Linked DNA regions of Homo sapiens. The gene in region 1 interacts genetically with each later gene. Each region holds a gene or a part of one and is shown on either strand. Other genes may lie near its edges. The genes, in order: RAB6A and EIPR1.

Region 1 (15,991 bases):
CATAGATGGCATCTCCTTTCCTTGGACTTTATAGGATATAGATGTGTCAGCTTGAACTATAGCAGCAATCTTGTGATTATTGGGGAAGCTAGCATCTAAGAGCAAAGTCAATACACTGAGAAAGGCAGAGCAGAAAGACAGAACAACCTGGTTCTTGTAGACATTGCTGGGTAGGAGGGAATTAACCAGTCCTGGAAGCTTCGGACTTCCCTTTTTTTTTTTTTTTTTTTTTTGAGACGGAGTCTTGCTCTTGTCACCCAGGCTGGAGGGCAACGGCATGATCTTGGCTCATTGCAACCTTCGCCTCCCAGGTTCAAGCGATTCTTTCGCCTCAGCCTCCTGAGTACCTGGGATTACAGGCGCCTGCCGCCACGCCTGGCTAATTTTATTTTATTTTATACTTACTTATTAATTTTTTTTTTTGAGACAGAGTCTCGCTCTGTCGCCTAGGCTGGAGTGCAGTGGCGCGATCTCCGCTCACTGCGAGCTCCGCCTCCCGGGTTCACGCCATTCTCCTGTCTTAGACTCCCAAGTAGCTGGGACTACATTGGACTACAGGCGCGTGCCACCACGCCTGGGTAATTTTTTTTTTTTTTTTTTTTTTTTTTTTTTGTATTTTTAGTAGAGACGGGGTTTCACCATGTTAGCCAGGATGGTCTCGATCTCCTCACCTCGTGATCCGCCCGCCTCGGCCTCCCAAAGTGCTGGGATTACAGGCGTGCTCCACCACGCCCGGCCGGCTAATTTTTGTATTTTTAGTAGTGACGGGGGTTTTGCCATATTGGCCAGGCTGGTCTTGAACTCCTAACCTCGTGATCCTCCCATCCCGGCCTCCCAAAGTGCTGGGATTACAGGCGTGAGCCACTGCACCGGCCAGGACTTCTTTATGTGATTTGCCCTATTGTTGAAACTTTTTTTTTTTTTTAAGATGGAGTCTCCCTCTGTTGCCCAGGCTGGAGTGCAGTTGCGCAGTCTTGGCTCACTGCAACCTCCGCCTCCCGGGTTCGAGCAACACTCCTGCCTCAGCCTCCCTAGTAGCTAGGATTATAGGCGCTCACCACCACACCCGGCTAATTTTTGTATTTTTAGTAGAAACGAGGTTTCACCATGTTGGCCAGGCTGGTCTCTTAACTCCTGAGGTCAAGTGATCCTCCTGCCTTGGCCGCACCAAAGTGCTGGGATTACAGATGTGAGCCACAGAGCCCGCCCATTTAAATTATTTAGAGTTGAGTTTTCTGTTTCTTCCAGCTGAAAGGTTCTGAAATGATAATGTTAGTAAATGGATCACATAGCAAATAAACTGTGGGGTTTTTTTCTTTATTTTTTTGTTTTTTTTTTTTTTTTGTTTGTTTTTTTCCCTCATCAAAAGATAGTGGAGTATATATATAAAGGGCACATGTCAACCCTATTGTAATCTTTGTTGTCTGTATTGGACTACAGCTACGATGTAGGTGTTCTTGCAAGCCTCCTCTGGAAAGACTGCACACTGTCCTTGATAATCTCCGATCTGGACAACAGCAATAACAGCGTGTCAGGTAAAGCCAGGAAGACAGTTGGTATGAAAAGTGATTTGGAAATTTTTTGTCTTTATTGATGAAAATAATGCGAATTGGTTTTGTTTTGTTTTGGTGGATTTTTTTTTTTTTTTTTGAGACGGAGTCTCGCTCTGTCACCCAGGCTGGAGTGCAGTGGCATGATCTCGGCTCACTGAAATCTCCACTTCCCAGGCTCAAGGAATCCTCCCATCTCAACCTCCTGAGTAGCTGGGATCACAGAAGTGCACCACCATGCCTGGCTAATTTTTTGTATTTTTGGTAGAGATGAGGTTTCATCATGTTGCCCAGGCTGGTCTAGAAATTAATGTGGGCCGGGCCCTGTGGCTCACGCCTGTAATCCCAGCACTTTGGGAGGCTGAGGTGGGCAGATCAGGAGGTCAGGAGATCGAGACCATCCTGGCTAACACAGTGAAACCCTGTGTCTACTAAAAATATAAAAAAATTAGCTGGGCATGGTGCCATGCGCCTGTCCCAGCTACTCGGGGGGCTGAGGCAGGAGAATTGCTTGAACCCGGGAGGTGGAGGTTGCAGTGAGCCAAGATCGCGCCATTGCACTCCACACTCCAGCCTGAGCAACAAGGGCGAAACTCAGTCTCTTTTTTAGGCATATGAGACTGCCTGCCGTTGTTATGGAAGATGCTTGGGAAGAGATGGTTGTTTATCAATTCCCCTGTCTTTTGGCAGCACCTCACCCTGGTACTTTACTATGCCTGGTTAACTGAGCCTAGAACTTTTTTTTTTTGAGACGGAGTCTCACCCTGTTGTCCAGGCTGGAGTGCAATGGCGCGATCTCGGTTCACTGCAACCTCCGCTTCCTGGGTTCAAGCGATTCTCCTGCCTCAATCTTCCCAAGTAGCTGGGATTACAGGTGCCTGGTACCATGCCCGGCTAATTTTTGTATTTTTAGTAAGGGTTTCACCATGCTGGCCATGCTGGTCTCGAACTCCTGACCTCAGGCTATCCGCCCCGCTTCGACCTCCCAAAGTGCTGGGGTTATAGGCGTGAGCCACGGCGCCCCGCTGCTGAGAGCTTCTTATATTCAGTTTCACCATAGAAAGGGATGGGTTTAAAATGCTGTTCATACAGTCCTTGATACAATTCCCTTGTTTTTGTCCTCGTTTTACCCCCTACCTTATATGGTACCTGGTATTTCACATTCCTGAGCAGAATTTCTGCAGTTCCGCTTAGCTGATTGGCTTGCTTCTTGTTAATTCATCCTTCAGTAAGCACTTTATATGTTCTGTTTAGTCAGTTACCATTGCTCTATCTTTGTCCCCCATCTTAAAATATTATGGCTCTGGGTTACAGATGTCAAATCCAGAGTTTGCATTTTAATTTCTTTATTCTCGTTTTGGAATGGTTTCAGAGAGAGAAGACAGAACATCTTTATCTTCCTAAAACCGGTAGTTTTTTCATTTTTCCTGTGATGTTGGGGCTTATTATCTCACTTCATAGTTTGAGCTACAACTTCTATAATTATTTTGATATCTTTTGATTTTATATAAAATAAAGTCCTAGTTACTTTGTGTTAATTGAAAAGCCGAAGAAATATTCACAGAAAGATAGTTTCTCTTGGCTTCTTTGGCAAGTTACAATTTGGCTGTGCAGTCTGTTGGTATTTCAGTGCAAACAGTGTTGGTCTCACTTTTCTATCCTAAGATGCTCTGTTCTTTATATAAACAGCAGTAGAGGCAGTTGTTCTCTTCTACTCTGAGAGTGATTATCACTTAGTAGCAGGTGGAGTGATTCATTCTCTTGTACATCTTAGAGGAGACTTTATTATTTGTGGGGGATAGAGTGTGGGGAGAGGAGAGCTCCAGCAATGTGTCAGATTTTATACATTCTGGACTAGCATAAAAAGCAGCAAGTTCTTCCCCCACTGCAATTTCAAAGCCTGGAAGTAACACCTCACTTACAAGGCTTTGAGAAATCACATTATTCATAATGGGGACCATGATTCACATGAACAGAACAAAATGGAATTATCAAAAATAGATTCTGTAGATCAATCCGTAGCAAAAATATCTTCTGACTTAGCTATTAATTGGCTATAATTACAGGAAGGACCATTCCATTTAAGTTCTAACACCTTCTCCACTTTGACTGAATAATCTTTATTCTCCCATGGCATGTCCTTATAGGTCAAAGTATTTGGAAAACAGGTTTTAACATGACTCGTCTCCCCCTTTATTTTTTGTAGTCTTTTAAAAATGAGACTTACTTCAACATACCTTGTGTTAATTGTACTCATTTAACTGGTCACCTTGAATTACTGAGCATTTGTCATTTTTATGCTTTGTATATTGACCCATTATTATTTTTAGTAGCAATGATTATAATAACCTGCAGTGTGGGTTAGAAGGGCTTTGCATTTGATGGAATTTGAATTCCTGCCAGAGCTATTATTTGTTTCAAATGTGAGCAATATGATTTCAGTCCTTTTACCTGTACAGTTTTTCTCCTTCTATTGATTTCCTGCCTCTCCAACAGTAATAAATCCCTTTTTAGGGAGTAGTAAACAGAAAAAGGCAGTTCCAGTGTGGTAACTACTACTTTATATATACACATACAATATTGAGTGCCTAATATTCAAGGAACTATGCAAGGTGTTTTAAGGGATCTAAATATGAGAATGTGAGCTGCAAGTAACAATAACAAAGAAATACAAAGACACATAAAAGCATTATTAAATATAAAGACATTTATTATGTTACTAAAAAGAAATCTAGGCGGCCAGTTCCAGGGCTGGTACAGCGGCTCAATGATGCCTTTTAGCTTTCTGCTTAGCCGTCATCAATGATTGGCTTTTTTCATTAGAATTATATATTAATGTTCGGCCGGGTGCGGTGGCTCACGCCTATAATCCCAGCACTTTGGGAGGCTGAGGCGGGCAGATCACGAGGTCAGGAGATCAAGACCATCCTGGCTAACACAGTGAAACCCCATCTCTACTAAAAATACAAAAAAATTAGCCGGGCATGGTGGCAGGCGCCTGTAGTCCCAGCTATTCGGGAGGCTGAGGCAGGAAAACGGCGTGAACCCGGGAGGCAGAGCTTCAATGTTCAGAAGAGCTATCTTAGCTCTAAATATCATGTCCTTACACAGCTACATCAATGGCAGAAAAATGGCAGTTTTTTCTCATTTATTCCTTTTCATCAAGGAAGAAAATATGTCTCTCTATCTCTCTTCTTCTCTTAGAATAAAAAAAGCCTCTAGCACATTTCCTTCATCTCCCACTGGCTCAGATGGACTCATGTGCCTATAACTTAGCTGAAGGGAGGCTGGAAACACATCTGTCATTTCTAGTATATATGGTGGAAGTATGTGTGTGTGTTATGTGTGCATTGCTGGATATGCAACCACTAGTGTCTGTCACTAAGAATAAGATGAAATTGACTGGGCGCAGTGGCTCACGCCTGTAATCTCAGCACTTTGGGAGGCCAAGGCAGGAGGATCACTTGAGGTCAGGAGTTTGAGACTAGCCTGGCCAACATGGTGAAACCCCGTCTCTACTGAAAATACAAAAATTAGCTGGACATGGTGGCACACTTCTGTAATCTCAGCTACTCAGGAGGCTGAGGCAGGAGAATCGCTTGAACCCAGGAAGTGGAGGTTGCAGTGAGCCGAGATCGGCCACTGCACTCCAGCCTGGACAGAGTAAGACTCTGTCTCCAAAAAGGAAAAAGAGAAATTTCAGCCAAGCACAGTGGCTCACGCCTGTAGTCCCAGCACTTTGGGAGAGCAAGATGGGCAGATCATCTAAGGTCGGGGGTTCGAGACTAGCCTGACCAACATGGAGAAACCCCATCTCTAGTAAAAATACACAATTAGCTGGGCGTGATGGCACATGCCTGTAATCTCAGCTACTCAGGAGGCTGAGGTGGGAGAATTGCTTGAACCCGACAGGCGGAGGTTGCGGTGAGCCGAGATCACGCCATTGCACTCCAGCCCGGGCAACAAGAGCAAAACTCTGTCTCAAAAAAAAAAAAAAAAAAAAAATTCAGTCCTCCTGCAAGAAGTTTTGTGTCTCTCAGGGCAGAAGATAAGCTATAATTTTATTACAATTTCTGTGTGATAGATTCCCTACATACTCCTGGGCTTCAATTTAGATATGACCTTTAAATAGATAATGAAAGCTGCTTTAGGTACTTTGAATTTGGAGCTGTGAAGACTGTCCTCTCCCATTGTTCCTAATTTTTAGTTACAAGATCTGTTCTCAGCATCTTTTTCATAAGTAATGGTTTAGGAAAGAAGTATCAAATTACATGACATATTTTTGGGTAATGTTCTCTTTCTCCAAAATGCTCTTAACCTTCCTTCTCTGCATGCCCAAATCCCATTCATCCTTTGAAGACAGTGAAAAATAATTCCTCTTTTATTTGATTTTGTCAGCAAACATCTGCTGCATGCTTACTATGTAGCAAGCACTCTTCAAGCACTGGGGATACAAGATGAGATCTGACCTCGTGGAGGTTACAGTCAAGTAGGGAACACTGACAATGAACAGCAATTAAGAATAGGATACAATAGGACAGGCAAAGGTACTTATACTGTTAGTGGGGATGGGAGCAGATGGGAGCAAGACTTGTGTGGTAGACTGAATGTTTGTGTCTCCCCAAAATTCATATGTTGAAACTATAGTCCCCAATGTGATGGTATTAGTAGGTGGGACCCTAGGGAGGTGATTAGGTCATGAGGGTGGAGTGCTCATAAATGGGATTAGTTCCCTTGTAAGAGGGAGCCCAGAGAGCTTTCTTGCTCTCTTTCTGCCATGTGAGGGCACAGTGAGAAGATGGTTGTCTATGAACCAGGAAGTGGGCCTTCACCAGACACAGTATCTTCTGGTACCTTGCTCTTGGACTTTCCAGTCTCCAGCTGTGAGAAATAAACATTTGTTGTTTAAGCCACCCAGTCATGGTATTCTGTTATAGCAGCCTGAATGGACAAAGACAACTTCTTTAAGTGGTAAGTGATTTAAAAGAAAAAAAAAAAAAGACAATTTCTTTAACTGAAGGATGAGTAGGAATTGGGGAAGAGTGGGGAAGGGAGGGGAAGAGTGTTTGCAGTAAAGAGAAGTGAGCGTAGGAAATCATGAAGGTGAAAATGTTGGTGAAAATACTCTTGAAAAGGGCCTCTCTAATTCCTCTTTCTCCTGAGTAATTTTTCCATTTGCTATACCCTACAGCACTTAATATGCAATGTTTAGGCCATAAAGTCTCTGAAGACAAAACTTACACAGAGTACTTGGTAATATGAAGGCAGCTTCAGAGGATAATGAGGCTGTGTATGTGTCAATGCAAAATGAAAGCTTAAAACATTAAAACATTTTAGGTAAGAGGTGGACTAGACCATAAGGCCCTTCAAAATGACAGGGAACAGTACCACCTGTCTAGGTGACTACAGAGACCAAAGCAGCAGGGAGGACTGATTCATAAAGTTCTGTAGGAAGTACAAAGTAATTATAGTTCCAATCCTCAGATGTTACTTTAAAGTCTATTTCAGGAAGCATAATGAAAACTTGGTACCCATCAGAAAGAAAATAGCTACTCACTTTTGTTTGCATAATCTTTTTAAAAAGTTTCTTGGTTTAAGCTGCTCTTTGTATGTGCCAGGGTTCTGGGTTAATGGTGGAGAGGACCCTATTAGATCTGACAAACTACTTGTAAAATCAAATGTCCATGCTACAAGCCAGGTTTTTACCATTTTATTTTAGATGCATGTTCTACCTGCACATGGCTGGGAGAGGAACCAGAAGGGAGTAAATTTTGATAGAGATGGTTTGAGGATATAGCTGTTGTCTTGATAGGCCAGAATAGATGATATTTTAAGAACTTTGGTTCTTCCCTGTAATTTATTCTAGGTCAGCAATTCATCCCTGGGCCTGAGAAGGCACTTTTTCAATCCTGTCATTTCTACAGCTAAGCAAATAACTCCCCAATAATGAGAAAAAGTACATAAATGTTTTGTGAATGATATACACAAATGATATACATTTGTGTATAGACACAAATGTAAGGACATATTTTTTATTATTCACTTAGAAAGTTTTTTTGTTTTTTTTTTTTTTTTTTAAGACAGGGACTTGTTCTGTCACCCAGATTTCAGTGTAGTGGTGCCATACCTCAGCCTCCAACTCCTGGACTCAAGCAATCCTTCTGCTTCAGGCTCCTGAGTAGCCGGAACTACAGGAGCACACCACGATATTCGGCTATTTTATTTTTTGTAGAGATAGTGTCTTGCTTTGTTGCCCAGCCTGGTCTCGAACTCCTGGGCTCAAGCGATTCTACCGCCTCGGCCTCCCAAAGTGCTGGGATTACAGACGTGAGCCACCGCGCCCAGCTGCTTTATGGATTTTTTTTTTTGGAGACAGAGTCTCGCTCTTGTTGCCCAGACTGGAGTGCAATGGTGTGACCTTGGCTCACTGCAACCTCCGCCTCCCGTGTTCAAGCGATTCTCCTGCCTCAGCCTCCCAAGTAGCTGGGATTACAGGCACCCGCCACCACACCACGTTAATTTTTTGTATTTTTAGTAGAGATGGGGTTTCATCATGTTGGCCAAGGCTGGTCTGGAACTCCTGACGTCAGGTGATCCACCCAACTCAGCCTTCCAAAGTGCTGGGATTACAGGGATGAGCCACCACGCCCGGCTTTTTTTTTTTTTTTTTTTTTTTTTTTCTGTTGAGATGGAGTCTCGCTCTGTCGCCAGGCTGGAGTGCAGTGGTGTGATCTCGGCTCACTGCAACCTCCGCCTCCCGGGTTCAAGCGATTCTCCTGCCTCAGCTTCCCGAGTAGCTGGGACTACAGGCGCGCGCCACCACCCCCAGCTAATTTTTGCATTTTTAGTAGAGACAGGGTTTCACCATGTTGGCCAGGATGGTCTCGATCTCTTGACCTCGTGATCCACTCGCCTCCGCCTCCCAAAGTGCTGGGATTACAGCCGTGGGCCACCGCGCCCAGCCCGCTTTATGGATTTTGCAAGTCATTTACTCCCTCTAAGCTTCAGTTTCCTCATCTGCAAAATTGGGAGGCCATGATTCTGGCAGTTATAACATTCCTGGGAGCAATGGAGGAGAATGTTATTTAGTAAGATGCCTGTGAGGAATTATGATGAGAGGATGGAGAAGGTGGGGTGTGTGCAATGGTGAAGAAGGGATCTGAGGACTGTGAGGCACGGCTGAGGGCTCAGGAAAGAGGCTCCCATTACAAATTTTAAGGCTATAGGACCCCACCCACACTTTTTGGGGGATCATATTCCACCTTTGTCCCGGCCCCGCCTCCGCCCCACCCTTCTCCCCCTCCCCTTTCTTTCCTTCCCCTCCCCTCAGGCTGAGAGGCGCCACACTTCTTATGGCCGCCACAGTGCTCCGCTTTCCACAGCTCGAGGGCTGCGCGCGCTCTCACGCTGCCACCTCACTCGCGTGTGGGCTCGCCCTCAGCCCCTTCCGATTGGCTCATTATGTAAGTGACGTAAGGGCTCCAGCCTCCCACTAACTTATCCCTGGCTTGCCCCGCCTCCTCCTGGCTTCTTTTGACGCCAGTGGAAACCTAACCTGCCCCGTCGCCGCCGTGCGGGAGGAGCCGGTAGAGCTGTCCAAACCAGGAAGGCGATGGCGATGGCGGTGGCGCGCACGCATGCACGCACGCACGCACGCCAGCGGCCGGCGGGGCCGCAGGCTCGCGCCCGGGCTCGCCCCGCGCCGCTCCAGAGGCTCGCGCACTCAGCAGGTTGGGCTGCGGCGGCGGCGGCAGCTGTGGAAGCTCAGGCGCTGCGCGTGAGAGGTCCCAGATACGTCTGCGGTTCCGGCTCCGCCACCCTCAGCTTCTCTTCCCCAGGTCTGGGAGCCGAGTGCGGAAGGAGGGAACGGCCCTAGCTTTGGGAAGCCAGAGGACACCCCTGGCTCCTGCCGACACCGCCCTCCTTCCCTTCCCAGCCGCGGGCCTCGCTCGGTGCTAGGCTACTCTGCCGGGAGGCGGCGGCGGCTGCCAGTCTGTGGAGAGTCCTGCTGCCCTCCAGCCGGGCTCCTCCACCGGGCCTTGCAGGGGCCGAGAGAGCTCGGTGCCCGCCCTTCCGCTCGCCTTTTTCGTCAGCTGGCTGGAGCAGCATCGGTCCGGGAGGTCTCTAGGCTGAGGCGGCGGCCGCTCCTCTAGTTCCACAATGTCCACGGGCGGAGACTTCGGGAATCCGCTGAGGAAATTCAAGCTGGTGTTCCTGGGGGAGCAAAGCGGTGAGTGCGTGGCTCCCCTACTCCTGGCAGCTGGCCGCAGCGTCCCCGCACCGCCCCCGGTGCGGCCCTTCCGTCCGCGGAGGCTCCCTGCCCGCCTCGCGTCCGCGCTCGTTGCCACCGCAGCCCTTCCCGATGTGCCCCCCGGTGCCACTGGCTCTTCGCCAGTGGCCGAGTTTTTACCCTGTTCCCCGGGTTCTTCAATCCTCGACTCCCCGGCTCCGTTCCCCGCAGTCCGGCCATCTCCGGTCGATCTGCCCTCCCTCCCCAGACCTCACCCCGCCCAGCCTCTTGTCCATCCCTTTCTTCCTCCGGTCTCGGTCATTGCCCGTACCCCGGCCCCCTTTCTTGAGCCCCACCCTTATTCCTTGCTCTTTTCCCAGTTCCTCAGCTCTGTGAGGCCCACTCAGGGAAGCCCCACTCCCGAGAGCGGGCCCTCTTCAACCTTGGCCAAGGAGGGTGGGATCTGGGCGTTGTTTTCCCCAGAGGCTTGGCCCTGCGAAGTGCTGATGTCGTGGAAGGTGGGAAGGGGTGGTAGTAGAAAAAATTAAATGATTTTCACCTGGGTGGGAAATTAGTCTGGGCCATAGAGGAAACATCTGAATTGGAGACGACTTGAGCATGGGGTGGTTGGGGGTGAAAGGGGTAGCGTCGGCAGTGGAGATTTTTGCCCCTTAGGTTAGATGGGGCTGTGGCTTGTCGGAAAACCTCATTTTGTTCTCTTGACTTTCATCACTGACAATTCTTTTGGCAATGTTGATGATTTTTCAATCTCTGCCAGATGCTATGTCATGATCATTTTACTTGGAATTTTTCTCATCTCACCTCCCCTTTTTCTCTTTTCAACATGAAGCAGCGTCTGAGTCTCATGGTGGTACAAAAGGGAATTACTGGGGAAATGTTAATTATTCATTCCTTCTTGAGTATTTTCCAATGATATATTGAGGATTCATGTGAGAGAAGGCTTGGAATAACAAACATCTTTGTTTTGTCGGATTTCCTTTGGAAAATGGAGTAGAGTAGGAACAGACTCATCATCTAGTTACCTAAATTAGATTTAAATACCATTTGGGCTAAATAATTCTTTTATGCTTAATATTCTGTACTGTCTGATGAGTGAAATTGTTATGTCATTTACCTGGTCAGGTTCTGCTGTCACTGTACTTTTGTATTAGATACTAGATCCTAATTTTGTGATGGTTGTATCTACGATTACTTCTTGTAGTAATTCCAGTTTTATGCTGTATTATACAAACTTGACACTCGACAATTCAGAGATGATTACCCTCCTTTGTTTTTCTCATACTTTGCATGCCCATCTTTAAAATTCAGACATTGAGAGATTAGTTCTGAGTCATCAAACATTGAGTACCTACTAGGTGTTTTAGGTGAGGTTATAGAAAACATTAGTTATTTGTTTTGACTGGAAGGCATGTAAGTGATATAAATTCGTAGCTTTTATTACTACTTTGAACTATTTATACTAATTTGTATGCCATCACAGAGGTTAATACTCTTGCAAAATTGCCTCCAGTTAGAACTGGGAAATCATTTTTCTCCTTTCATGTGTAGATTATCTTCCCCTCCTCCCTTTTGGGGGGAAAAATACAATCTCCCTCCTTTTTGCTTATATATTTTCCTGAAGTAAGTATAAACTTGTGTCTTTAGGTGAGTAACTTGGTAGAACCTATGGAGTTGCTTCTAGTCCAGCTTTTCTGTGTCAATATCAGGATAGTTCCCAAACATAAAATATAGTTTATTGGTTATTATTGATAAAAAGGATCCAAAGTGCTTATTGTGCATTCTAAGGATATTATTGCCTTCCTTATGTTGTGATGCACAGCTATTTAGTTTGCATGAAAAAACCTATTCATCTTCCTGCCTAAAAAGGTTTTAGCATGAATGGAGTGCTTAACTTCCTAAGTATCTTCAGGTTTCCTTTGAATTTCTTGAGTATTTGTGTATGTTCTAATGCATAATGGAGAGTTTTATGGCTTCTAATTTCGTACCTTGTTTAAGCCTCTACTACCCTCCCCCCTCCATTACTGAAGCCTGGTTAGATTTTTTTTAATAGACTTCATTTTTTAGAACAGTTTTAGACTTACAGAAAAATTGAAAAGATAGTGTAGAGTTCCCATATACCCACACATCTAGTTTCCCCTGTTATCAACATCTTGCATTAGTATGGCACATTTGTTAACAATTAATGAACTAATATTGATATGTTATTATTAACTTAAGTCCATAGTTTATTTAGATTTTTAGTTTTAACCTAATGTCCTTTTTCTGTTTCAGCATTCAATTCAGGATGTGAAGTTAATTATCTTTTGAGGTTACTATATTGTCAAGTAATGCCATTCATTAGCTTTGACAATGAAAGATTGATCTCTGTTTTCATGGTCAGTGTCTATAGTTTTCTTATGCGTTAGAAGTCTGTAGACTCCATGTCCTTTTGATGTAACTCTTCATGAATTATTTATTTTTAGGTCTGTTAGAATTCCACAATTCAGCTTTCAAAGACTGTAATCTATGGCAAAGCCTTGTTTCTTCTTAATAGCATTTACCACATTTACAATTATCTTATTTTTTATGTGTTTGTTTTTATTTCCCACAGAAGAATGCAACTCCCATGAAGATAAAAACTATTCTTTTTTGTTCAGTGTGTCCCCATTGCCTAGCGTAGAGCCAGGCTCATAGTAGCTGTTCAGACATGTTGGGTAAATGAATGATGGCTGAATCTAGTAGTAACGAAAGCTAGTAGCCTATGTTACACTCTTTGACATGGTTACGCAATTGATAGTTTAACAATAACACTTAAAACTTACATCATTTGATTGTATACAGGAATATATCAGATACTTAAGGGGGTAGAGAAACCAATCGTTTAGAGGCCCAACCATTTCATTCAAAAAATAGGACTGACCTGAATTTTGTACTTTTTTTTGAGTTGAGCAAAATTCGTCTTCCTTTATTAAAGTTGTTAAATTATTTGCTATTAATGTAACGCATGAAAAGTATTCAAATTATACCAATGATGTGCTCATGGAACTGATTTGAAATTAGGTTTTATTTGGCTTATCAAAAATTTAAGATACTAGGCTGGGTGCGGTGGTTCATGCCTGTAATCCCAGCACTTTGGGAGGCTGAGATAGGTGAATCATCTGAGGTCAGCAGTTCAAGACCAGCCTGGCTAACATGGTGGAGTCCCCGGCTCCCCCCCACCCCATGGCCCGGTCTCTACAAAAATACAAAAATTATCCAGGTATGATGGCGGGTGGGAGCCTGTAATCCCAGCTACTCAGGAGGCTGAGGCAGGAGAATCGCTTGAACCTGAGAGGCGGAGGGTGCAGTGAGCTGAGATCATGCCATTGCACTGCAGCCTGGGTGACAGAGTGAGACTCTGTCTCAAGAAAAAAAAAAAAAAAAAAAAAAAAAAAAATATATATATATATATATATATATATATATATGTATGTATATTTAAGATACTACGCTCTATAGTGAAAATGAATTGTGTCAGTACATGAAGCAGATTGAGTTAATGACATCAATCTTAACCTTAGATAAATTCTTACGGTTTAATAAAGGAATGTTTGGCTGGGCGTGGTGGCTCACGCCTGTAATCCCAGCACTTTAGGAGTCCGAGGCAGGCAAATCACCTGAGGTCAGGAGTTCAAGACCAGCCTGGCCAACATGGCAAAATCCCATCTCTACTAAAAATCCAAAAACTAGCTGGGCGTGGTGGCGTGTGCCTGTAATCCCAGCTACTCAGGAGGCTGAGGCAGGAAAACTGCAACCCAGGAGGTGGAGGTTGCAGTGAACTGAGATTGCCCCACTGCACTCCAGCCTGGGCCTCAGAGCGAGACTTTGTCTCTAAATAAATAAATAAAGGAATGTTGAAATACACAATTGGAAGTTTCCTTGAGGAGTCTGTTTTGTTACTACCTCTGGCTATTGTCTTGAGATGCAGAGGCAGTTTTAGTAATGTCACTCAGTGGTTTACAGTAGAAGATTTCACTATATATACATGTTACCAATTATAAATTAGGAGATGTAATGGCAGAGAGAAGCGCATACTCAGCCTACTACTGTTTTTTTCACTTTATATTGCCTTTTCTTTTTTTCCATCAATGCTGATCAAATTGCAATATGTTAGATAAGGAAAAAATGTCTTATTGTCAGAGACTAGCAGTACTGACCAGTTGTTTTTCTTTTGAGACGGGGTCTACCTCTGTCACTCAGGCTGGAGTGCAGTGGTGTGATCTCAGCTCACTGCACCCTCCACCTCCCAGGCTCAAGTGATCCTCCCACCTCAGCCTCCCAAGTAGCTGGGACAACAGGCACGCACCACCACGCCTGGCTAATTTTTGTATTTTTTTGTAGAGATGGGATTTTACCATGTTGCCCAGGCTGGTCTCAAAGTTTTGAGCTGGCGAGATCCTCCGGCCTCAGCCTCCCAAAGTGCTGGGATTACAGGTGTGAGCCACCACGCCTGGCCAGTACTGAACATTTTATATTGGCTAGATCAGTGGTTTTTAAACTTTTTTTCCCCAAGACCCCTTTCTGCTCTTACAAATTTTTGAGGATCCTGAAGAGCTCTGTTAATGTAGTTGTTATTGTTGTTCTTCTTCCTCCTCCTCCTCTTCTTTCTCCTCCTCCTCTTCTTCCTCCTCCTCTTCCTTCTCCTCCTCCTCTTGTTCTTCTTCCTCCTCCTCCTCTTCTTTCTCTTCCTTCCCCCTTCTCCCTTCCTTCCCCCTTTCCACCTCCCCCTTCCTTTCCTTTTCTCCCTTCCTTCCTCCTTTCCTCTTCCCATTTCCTTCCCCCTTCTTGGATGCAGTGACTGTTCACAGGGGCTATCATGGCCAACTGCAGCCTTGTCTCAAGCTCTCCTCCTGCCTCAGCCTCCCTAGTAGCTGGGACTATAGGCACATGCCACTGTGCCTGACTTTTGTTTATGTAGTTTATGTCAACATTTAGGCCGGGTGCGGTGGCTCACGCCTATAATCCCAGCACTTTGGGAGGCCGAAGTGGGTGGATCACCTGAGGTCAGGGGTTCGAGACCAGCCTGGGCAACATGGCGAAACCCCGTTTCTACTAAAAATACAAAATTAGCCGGGCATGGTGGTGCGTGCCTGTAGTCCCAGCTCTTCGGGAGGCTGAGGCAGGAGCATTGCTTGAACTCGGGAGGTGGAGGTTGCAGTGAGCCAAGATCGTGCCACTGCGCTCCAGCCTGGGCAACAGAGTGAGGCTCCATCTCAAAATAAATGAATAAATATATCAACATTTACTGTATTGAAAAAGAAAATTTCAAAATATTTAATATGTTAAAAAATAATAGGGCCGAGCGTGGTGGCTCATGCTTGTAATCCCAGCATTTTGAGAGGCCGAGGTGGGCGGATCACTTGAGGCCAGAAGTTTGAGACCAACCTGGCCAATATGGTGAAACCCCGTCTCTACTAAAAATACAAAGAAATTAGCCTGGCATGGTGGTGGACGGTCCCAGTGGTAGTGCCAGCTACTCAGGAGGCTGAGGCAGGAGAGTCCCTTGAACCCGGGAGGTGGAGGTTGCAGTGAGCCAAGATCACGCCATTGCACTCCAGCCTGGGCAACGAGCAAAACTCCATCTCAAAAAAATAATAATAATAATAATAAACCCATTGCATGTTAATACCCTTTTTTTTTTTGACTGCATCCCTCTGTTGCCCAGGATGGAGTGAGTGCCTCCCGGGTTCGCGATTCTCATGCCTCAGCCTCCTGAATAGCTGGGACCACAGGTACATGCCGCCATGCCTGGCTAATTTTTTGACTTTTTAGTAGAGACAGGGTTTTGCTATATTGGCCAGGCTGGTCTCAAACTCCTGGCCTCAAGTGACCTGCTTGCCTTGGTCTCCCAAAGTGCTGGGATTACAGGCATGAGCCACTGTGCCCAGCCTTCATGTTAACATCATTTCTGAAATGAAAAAGAACTATTTTCCAAACAGATATTTAGTGAGAGTGACATTGTTTTACATATTTGCAAATCTCTTTAATGTCTGACTTAATAGAGGACAATTGGATTTGCATAGCTGCTTATGCATTCAATCCTGTAATATTACACATCATATAGGCACGGGGAAACTCCACAATACATTTCAAGAGAGTAAGAGTGAAAAATTCAAATAACATCTTAATCTTATGAAAATGGTTTTGACATCCAGGAGTTTGTGGACCTCCC
Region 2 (10,191 bases), on another chromosome or scaffold:
TCAAGACCATACCGGCTAACATAGTGAAATGCTGTCTCTATTAAAATACAAAAAATTAGCCAGGCATGGTGGCGGGCGCCTGTAGTCTCAGCTACTTGGGAGGCTGAGGCAGCAGAATCACTTGAACCCAGGAGGCGGAGGTTGCAGTGAGCCAAGATCGTGCCACTGCACTCCAGCCTGGCGGCAGAATAAGACTCCATCTCAAAAAAAAAAAAAAAAAAAAAAAGTGGAAATAAACACTGCCTGTAGACACAATAATAAGTAAATAAGTAGACTGTGGTATACTAGGACATAAAATATTAAAATAGTGGTGAAAATCAGTGAACTCTTCCATATCTAACATATAAATTATGTTTGGATCTCACAAATACAATTTTGCACAAAGAATGAGTAGAAAAATAAACAGCATGACTCTGTATATTCAAAAACATGTAAATTAAACAAAAGTGTTGAATCCAAACACTTTTTCTGTGTTAGGAACACAAACATATTTGGTCAAACTACAAAGAAAAGCCAGGATATAGTAACAGCCACTTTAGTGAGGGAGGGGTGGAAGGTGATGGCAGGAGAGCTTGACTGGGGAGGGACACACGGAAGTTTCAACGCACTGGGAAATGGTCCCCATCTTATGCTGGTAATGGAAGACTGGGTTGACTTGATCTTTAAATCTCACATGTGTGTTACGGGTAGTCTTTATAGTTCATAATTAAAAATGGAAAAACACAAGTATCTGTTCTTGATTTGTACGTGATAGAAATCTTTACTCCCTCCTATCATTGGCTTTATTTTTATTAAACTATAAATAGGATTTTAAGCTTACATAAGCTTACAGAAGCTTTACATCACAGTGCAGCAAAGAAATCTGACTTTCTCCTTGTCCAGTTGAGGGCTTTGCACAAGAATGTGATTAATTAATTGTTTAAAATTTTTTTAAATATTAAATTTAAGTAATTCTGTATTTGAGAAATAAAAAGTTCCTAACAACATTTAAAACTTGGTTTCTCAGGTTCATTTCCTGGACACAGACACTCTGTAAACATATCTTTTACCAAATTGCAGTCATGTAAAATTTCCTTCCATAAGGGCACGAGGGTGTGTAGTGGAAATCTAGGTGGCACGTATTAACAGAAGTCTCCATGTAATGAACACTCACTACAGATCAAGCATTTTACCTTATTATTTAATACTCATCCTAAACTTTTGAAGCATTATTATTACCTCCATCATACAGCAGAGAAGGCCAAGTGATTTGCCTAACATCACACTGACAGTACCTGATGGTGACAGGCTACCCACACAGCGCTTTCTGCCAATACTCTTTTCTTTGTGCTGGTCACCTCTCAGCTCCTCTTGCAAGGTTGCCAGGCAGGGGTGGGCAGAAAGAGCTCTGAAGGCAGTGTCTCAATAACTGTGTTGAGTCTTAGCTTCCCGACCAAGTGAAGTAACCTCTGAAAATCTTGATCTTTTAGATGGTACATCAGAATAAAGAGGATTAAATAGTGGCACCCCTGCATAGGCATCTTTTAAAGTGTGAAGAGCTGCACAGACACAAGCATAGTAATTATCATTTTAATGATAAAGCAGAGTGGCAACACCCAGTTTAGTAACTGTGAAGAAGATCCCATCAGATATCACAAAATGTAAGAACTGAATGAGTAACACTGTGTAATATTTCATTTGCTTTTCCCCTGTCCCTCTCCCACCCCAATCCCAAGACGGGACTGGCTCATTATCCGCCACTATCTTCTGAATTTGCGAACAGTGACTGAATCCAAAGACACCATATCTTCAAGTAGCCATTAAAAAGTACAAACCGTAGGTCCAAGAAAATTTTTCCTTGGGGCTACACTGTTTCGTAGTGAAGAGTGAAAAAATGACACGTTAAAACACATCTTTGACCCTAACGCTTTCTGTTGAATAAACGCTTTTTCGGTCTTCACAGTAAATATACTCTACAATTAGTATGTGTAGCAACAGCGGACGTTTACACAGTGACTCAAATGCTTTTACACTGCATTGCAGCCTCACAATGCTGAGTTTGGCAGGGCAGGTCATTAGTAACCTCTTTCCGCGGGAGGGTGAATTAAGTCTAAGGGAAGTTAAGGGGCTTGCTGGGGGCCTGGCTGGCACCAAGCCTGGAACTGGGGGTCTCGGGGACGCCTGGGCGCGCGCCAGCGGGTAGTTTCCCACACGCTTCGCAGCAGCTTCCCCTTCCCGCAAACTCCGCGGGCTGCAGAGACGCTTCCAGCCCTCTGCAGACGTGGAGAGCAAGGGCCGCGGCGACGTGGAGCCTGGCACAAGGCCCGCGGAGCACACACGCCCTTGGGTGGCAGGCGACCCCGCGCCCGGACCCCACGCCCACTCTAGCATCGGTCCCAGAGAAGGTCCCTCCGGGCTGAGGCCAAAGCCAGTGTGCTCCCTCCCCGAGGTGGCGCTACACGGTCCCATCCCCTCTGGACTGCCGAGGCCCTGATCCTCACCTGCCACCCGCCCACTGGAGCTGGGCTAAGGGGTCACCTGCGGCCGTGACCAAGGTCCGTGAGGAAGGTGACAGAAGCCGGGAATCGGAGAGGAACTGGCACCCCCGGGGAGCTCTGTACGCCTGCGCGTGCCGGGCCGCGGCGCGCCTAGTTCTGCTCAGGCCCGATGCAGGAACCCGAGGCCCTGCCCCCAGGCCGGAAATGGGGTTCGTTTCCGGTTCGTCTGCTGTGGGCGGGGCCTGGAGCCCTAGGTGTGAACGCGCACAGGCAACCAGGAGCCGGTAGTTGAGGGGAGCGGACCCTGTACTTGGAAATGGGAACGGAGACTCCACTCCACCTAGCCTGATTCTGTCACTCAGAGGCAATAGGCAAGCCTGTGGCAGATGGGGCGGGTGAAAGGGAGTCGCTTAGGCTATTTTTATTGACCAGCATATCCTAGAAATCAGTGTTTCTATGGATTTGTCTTTGTGTTTATCTGTATTTTGTAAGTTTCTTACCATGCACCTGCAGTACTTGTATAATAAAATTAATGATAAAGATATCAGTGATAGATGGGTGGGTTTAATCCCGAAGTATGAAGGCCCTCTTAGCTCCGCAAGTTAATATCGGCAAACAGAGTGGTTGAATAGGATGATTCTCATGTCTGGGCCATTGCTTACTTGATTTCTTTCTTTCTTGTTTTTGCTTACTTGATTTCTTTCTTTTCTTTTCTTTTTTTTTGACCGACTCTGGCTCTGTCGCCCAGGCTGGAGTGCAGTGGCGCGATCTCGGTTCACTGCAACCTCCGCCTCCCGGGTTCAAGCGATTCTCCTGCCTCAGCCTCCCGAGTAGCTGGGATTACAGGCGCGTGCCACCACGCTGGGCTAAGTTTCGTATTTTTAGTAGAGACGGGGTTTCACTGTGTTGGCCAGGCAGGTCTCGAACTGACCTTGTGATCCACCCTCCTCAGCCTCCCAAAATGCTGGGGTTACAAGCGTGAGCCACCGCGCCCGGCCTGCTCATTTGATTTCTCATGTAATCTCTAAAATTTCATACACTCAACAGATACTCATCCAGCCTTAACTCAATACCACGCGCCTTGCCCAACTGAGCAAAACGAGACCCAACCATTTCCGTCACGGAGATCAATAAAGGGTAGAGGGGAAAGCTAATCACAGAAATGGAGGAAAGGTGCGTGGTCCTGGAAGCCCCGGTGGAACCAGGCTAGCGGCGTGGTTCAGCTATGATGTATTTTGGAGTCCTTGCGATGCCATTTCTGCTGGCCCAAGGCCAGGGCAGGCACTTTGAGCAGGATGCGAAAGAGGGGCAGTCTCTCCACCACAAGTCTTTAGTCTTTGGAGACCTCTAGGAACCCCAGGGCCTTCCCTTCCGACTCCCATTCGGAGGCATATGCAGTCCAGGACCACCAGTGGTGCGGTGCCGGCTTTCATAACCCCATCCTTGGTAGTGCTTTCTTTGCCACACAGTGCTGGGCACCTGCAGAAATGCATTAGGCATGGCCCTGACTTAGGGCACCTTGGGCCGAACCTAAGGGAGTCAGCTCAGGTGCCCATCCTGGCTACCCAATGGACCAATGAGCGCTGCGACTGTGTTACTCAACTTTGCAGCGTCTCATCGGTAAAATGGAAGTGTAACAGCTTATTCATAGGGTTGGATGAAGCTCCTTATGGCAGTGCGTGTGAAGCGCTGGCCCAGCGCTCAGGAACGCCAAGTACATACAAATGACAATACATGGCGGCGCCCAACTACGGCGTGAGCGATTCTTAGATGCGATGGCTAGCTAAGGCTAATCGCCGCTTGCTCCCGACGGCCTGCGCTCGGAGCCGGCCTCCACCCACAGCCGGCCTCCGCGGCCCGCTCCGCCCACCAACTTATTTCCTCTGGGCCGGGTTCTCACCTCCAGGAGTCCCCGCGCTGAGAGCCCGGATGTGAGCCCAAGTGGCCATGCGCACAAGCCAGCGCCGCTGCCATTGGTCGCTGGTGAGGAACAGATTGATGACACATCCGAAAAATAGGAAGTGGCCACTACGGAAGCTGTTCTGGGCCAGAAAGACTTCCAGTTTGGAGTCGTTTGCTGCGGGGAGGGAATGAATGGGCGCTGGGAACACGCCCGCGAGGTGGGGACGCGCCGGCCGTAGCGAGGTCCTTAGCGTGTGAGTGGCCGGGGTCGGGTCGCTTCCCCGCAGCATGGAGGACGATGCACCAGTGATCTACGGGCTGGAGTTCCAGGTGGGTCACTGGGAGGGCGGCAGGTGCTGCTCGGCCTGGCTGTTGATAGCATGCGCGGTCCCATGGTGACTTCGGTTTGCAGATCTCCCACCAGCCCTGCAAGGACCCGTGTCTGTTCCCTAGTTCCCATTTTGCAGAGAAGTAAACTGAGGCTTTAGGAGGTTAAACGGTTGTACTGGATAACAGGGTTGGCCACAGCCGGCCTGCCTCCTTCCCCTTCACATCCTGTCCCGAACATGACTTCTGACCTGGAAGTTATCACTCACTTTGGTGGACTCATTTATTTACACGCCCACCTTTTCCTCTAGAATTTGAGTTCCTGAAGGTAGGAACTGTATGTTGTTTAAAATAAAAATGTTTGATTTTGAAACAATTTAAAGTATTTAGAAGAGTTGTAAAAATACATAGAAAGTTCTTCTTTACCCTCCACCCAGCTTCCCTTAATGTTAACACTTTACATAACCATCGTACATTTATCACAGCTTAGAAATTAACATTGGTACACTAATATTCAGTAAACCACAGACTGTCTTCGGATTCAACTGTTTTCACACTAGTTTTTTACCTTGTATTTTCCAGTGCCTTTTCATGACTGTCACATAGTAGGTGTTCAACAAATGACTATGAACCGAATGAGCCCCCAGAGCATAAGCAATGCACATGGTAGTTCAGGACAGCAAGAAAGCTGCCGTGGATAGAGTAAATGCGTCAGGGGGAATGAGGTAGGGGATGAGATGAGCGGGGGAGGAAGATGAGGATTGTGTAGGGCCTGTTAGAGCCCTGTCCTGGTTTTCATCTATTCAAGTAGCTTTTGAGAATGTGTTATGCCTAAAGCACTGAGGGACAGATAGAGAGATAGAAACACAGTTCACTGCCATATGAAATACTTGATACATAATTTTGTGCAGCAGTATGTGTTAAAGATATAAATGATGTCTGCTTTTTTTTTTTTTTTTTGAGATGGAGTCTTGCTCCGTTGCCCAGGCTAGAGTGCAGTGGCGTGACCTCGGCTCACTGCAACCTCCGCCTCCCGGGTTTAAGTGATTCTCCTGCCTCAACCTCCCAAGTAGCTGGGATTACAGGCACCCGCCACCACGCCCGACTAATTTTTGTATTTTTAGTAGATACGGGGTTTCACCATCTTGGCCTGGCTGGTTTTGAACTCCTGACCTTGTGATCTGCCTGCCTCAGCCTCCCAAAGTGTTGGGATTACAGGCGTGAGCCACCGCACCTGGCCAATGTCTGTTTTTAAGTAGGTTACAGTCAGAGAGGCAGCAGTGTTAGTAGAATAACATATGCCACCCAGACACCTAAGTTTTAAATCCTGCCTCTAGCACTTATTAACTATGTGACCTTGGGCCTCGGTTTCCTTGCCAATAAAATATGCATCTCCCTCCCCCCCACCTCATGGCTGTTATGAAATTAAATGAGTTAATACACTTAATTGAATCACGTAGAACAGTGCCTGGTGCATAGTGTGTTCAATAATTGTTGTTCTAATTGTTATAATGAGAGAAAATTCCTTTTTTTTCCTTTGTAGAAATGGGGTTTCGCCATGTTGCCCAGGCTGGTCTCACACTCCTGAGCTCAAGTGATCTGCCCTCCTTGGCCTCCCAAAGTGCTGGGATTATAGTCATGAGCCACCGCACCCTGCCTAAGACAAAATTCTTACAAATAAATTTTATACAGGGCAGCAGTTAAGTGTCCTGTATAATAAACTGTGCTATAGGATTTGACCAGTGGCTATATCACATTCACAAGACTGATAGCTTAACTACCAGTGATTTAGCTCTGGACTATGTGTCAGACACTCTGCTTAGCACTGTACAAATATTTCATTTAATTCTCACAGCAATCATTATTGGTAGGTGTTATTGTTCCTGTTTTACGGATGAAGAGACAGCCTCAGAGAGAATAGTTACCTGTCCAAGGCCACTTAACTAGTAAATGATAGACCTTGGATTCTGACCTACTTAGACTTTCAACCCAAACTGACCTCGAGTCCCCTTACCTGCTAAGTTCTACTGCTTTCTCTTTAACTAGATACACATAGGGATACACAGGGAGAGACCACATGGGTAGATAGAAGGTTCTATAATCTTGTACTACCTGAAGATGCATACTCTGCCAGTGCTACTTAATTTAACTTCTTGATCTCCTTAAGAAATCTCTCAAAAAACCCAGAGGATTTTATCTTCAGTATTGTATCTTTGAGGTTAACTGAAATGTTATTTTCTTTTTTTTCTCTCTTTTTTTTTTAAATTATTATTATATTTTAAGTTTTAAGGTACATGTGCACAATGTGCCAGTTAGTTACATATGTATACATGTGCCATGCTGGTGTGCTGCACCCATTAACTCGTCATTCAGCATTAGGTATATCTCCTAATGCTATCCCTCCCCCCTCCCCCCACCCCACAACAGTCCCCAGAGTGTGATGTTCCCCTTCCTGTGTCCATGTGTTCTCATTGTTCAATTCCCATCTGTGAGTGAGAACATGCAGTGTTTGGTTTTTTGTCCTTGCGACAGTTTACTGAGAATGATGATTTCCAATTTCATCCACGTCCCTACAAAGGACATGAACTCATCATTTTTTATGGCTGCATAGTATTCCATGGTGTATATGTGCCACATTTTCTTAATCCAGTCTATCATTGTTGGACATTTGGGTTGGTTCCAAGTCTTTGCTATTGTGAATAGTGCCGCAATAAACATACGTGTGCATGTGTCTTTATAGCAGCATGATTTATAGTCCTTTGGGTATATACCCAGTAATGGGATGGCTGGGTCAAATGGTATTTCTGGTTCTAGATCCCTGAGGAATCGCCACACTGACTTCCACAATGGTTGAACTAGTTTACAGTCCCACCAACAGTGTAAAAGTGTTCCTATTTCTCCACATCCTCTCCAGCACCTGTTGTTTCCTGACTTTTTAATGATTGCCATTCTAACTGGTGTGAGATGGTATCTCATTGTGGTTTTGATTTGCATTTCTCTGATGGCCAGTGATGATGAGCATTTTTTCATGTGTCTTTTGGCTGCATAAATGTCTTCTTTTGAGAAGTGTCTGCTCATATCCTTTGCCCACTTTTTGATGGGGTTTTTTGTTTTTTTCTTGTAAATTTGTTTGAGTTCATTGTAGATTCTGGATATTAGCCCTTTGTCAGATGAGCAGGTTGTGAAAATTTTCTCCCATTTTGTAGGTTGCCTGTTCACTCTGTTGGTAGTTTCTTTTGCTGTACAGAAGCTCTTTAGTTTAATGAGATCCCATTTGTCAATTTTGGCTTTTGTTGGCATTGCTTTTGGTGTTTTAGACATGAAGTCCTTGCCCATGCCTATGTCCTGAATGGTAATGCCTAGGTTTTCTTCTAGGGTTCTTATGGTTTTAGGTCTAACGTTTAAGTCTTTATTCCATCTTGAATTAATTTTTGTATAAGGTGTAAGGAAGGGATCCAGTTTCAGCTTTCTACATATGGCTAGCCAGTTTTCCCAGCACCATTTATTAAATAGGGAATCCTTTCCCCATTGCTTGTTTTTGTCAGGTTTGTCAAAGATCAGATAGTTGTAGATATGCGGCATTATTTCTGAGGGCTCTGTTCTGTTCCATTGATCTGTATCTCTGTTTTGGTACCAGTAACATGCTGTTTTGGTTACTGTAGCCTTGTAGTATAGTTTGAAGTCAGGTAGCGTGATGCCTCCAGCTTTGTTCTTTTGGCTTAGGATTGACTTGGCGATGAGGGCTCTTTTTTGGTTCCATATGAACTTTAAAGTAGTTTTTTCTAATTCTGTGAAGAAAGTCATTGGTAGCTTGATGGGGATGGCATTGAATCTATAAATTACCTTGGGCAGTATGGCCATTTTCACGATATTGATTCTTCCTACCCATGAGCATGGAATGTTCTTCCATTTGTTTGTATTCTCTTCTATTTCATTGAGCAGTGGTTTGTAGTTCTCCTTGAAGAGGTCCTTCATGTGCCTTGCAAGTTGGATTCCTAGGTATTTTATTCTCTTTGAAGCAATTGTGAATGGGAGTTCACTTATGATTTGGCTCTCTGTTTGTCTGTTATTGGTGTATAAGAATGCTTGTGATTTTTGTACATTGATTTTGTATCCTGAGACTTTGCTGAAGTTGCTTATCAGCTTAAGGAGATTTTGGGCTGAGACAATGGGGTTTTCTAGATATACAATCATGTCGTCTGCAAACAGGGACAATTTGACTTCCTCTTTTCCTAATCGAATAGCCTTTATTTCCTTCTGCCTAATTGCCCTGGCCAGAACTTCCAACACTATGTTGAATAGGAGTGGTGAGAGAGGGCATCCCTGTCTTGTGCCAGTTTTCAAAGGGAATGCTTCCAGTTTTTGCCCATTCAGTATGATATTGGCTGTGGGTTTGTCATAGATAGCTCTTATTATTTTGAGATACTTCCCATCAATACCTAATTTATTGAGAGTTTTTAGCATGAAGCGTTGTTGAATTTTGTCAAAGGCCTTTTCTGCATCTATTGAGATAATCATATGGTTTTTGTCTTTGGTTCTGTTTATATGCTGGATTACATTTATTGATTTGCGTAGATTGAACCAGCCTTGTATCCCAGGGATGAAGCCCGCTTGATCATGGTGGATAAGCTTTTTGATGTGCTGCTGGATTCAGTTTGCCAGTATTTTATTGAGGATTTTTGCATCAATGTTCATCAAGGATATTGGTCTAAAATTCTCTTTTTTGGTTGTGTCTCTGCCCGGCTTTGGTATCAGGATGATGCTGGCCTAATAAAATGAGTTAGGGAGGATTCCCTCTTTTTCTATTGATTGGAATAGTTTCAGAAGGAATGGTACCAGTTCCTCCTTATACCTCTGGTAGAATTCGGCTGTGAATCCATCTGGTCCTGGACTCTTTTTGGTTGGTAAGCTATTGATTATTGCCACAATTTCAGATCCTATTATTGGTCTATTCAGAGATTCAACTTCTTCCTGGTTTAGTCTTGGGAGAGTGTATGTGTTGAGGAATTTATCCATTTCTTCTAGATTTTCTAGTTTATTTGCGTAGAGGTGTTGGTAGTATTCTCTGATGGTAGTTTGTATTTCTGTGGGATTGGTGGTGATATCCCCTTCGTCATTTTTTATTGCGTCTATTTGATTCTTCTCTTTTTTTCTTTATTAGTCTTGCTAGCGGTCTATCAATTTTGTTGATCCTTTCAAAAAACCAGCTCCTGGATTCATTAATTTTTTGAAGGGTTTTTTGTGTCTCTATTTCCTTCAGTTCTGCTCTGATTTTAGTTATTTCTTGCCTTCTGCTAGCTTTTGAATGTGTTTGCTCTTGCTTTTCTAGTTCTTTTAATTGTGATGTTAGGTGTCAATTTTGGATCTTTCCTGCTTTCTCTTGTGGGCATTTAGTGCTATAAATTTCCCTCTACACACTGCTTTGAATGTGTCCCAGAGATTCTGGTATGTTGTGTCTTTGTTCTCATTGGTTTCAAAGAACATC

The links.
Region 2: changes in RAB6A (region 1) and EIPR1 are lethal when combined (synthetic lethality), as found in Homo sapiens cells (one study listed by BioGRID).

Annotation. Positions count from the first base shown.
Region 1 is NC_000011.10:73,754,355-73,770,345, reverse strand, and holds the start of RAB6A (ras-related protein Rab-6A), read left to right. Parts: upstream 1-9,271; 5' UTR 9,272-9,710; coding exon 9,711-9,780; intron 9,781-10,250; exon of another isoform or gene 10,251-10,298; intron 10,299-15,991. UniProt on the Homo sapiens protein: The small GTPases Rab are key regulators of intracellular membrane trafficking, from the formation of transport vesicles to their fusion with membranes.
Region 2 is NC_000002.12:3,372,166-3,382,356, reverse strand, and holds the start of EIPR1 (EARP and GARP complex-interacting protein 1), read left to right. Parts: upstream 1-4,538; 5' UTR 4,539-4,667; coding exon 4,668-4,709; intron 4,710-10,191. UniProt on the Homo sapiens protein: Acts as a component of endosomal retrieval machinery that is involved in protein transport from early endosomes to either recycling endosomes or the trans-Golgi network.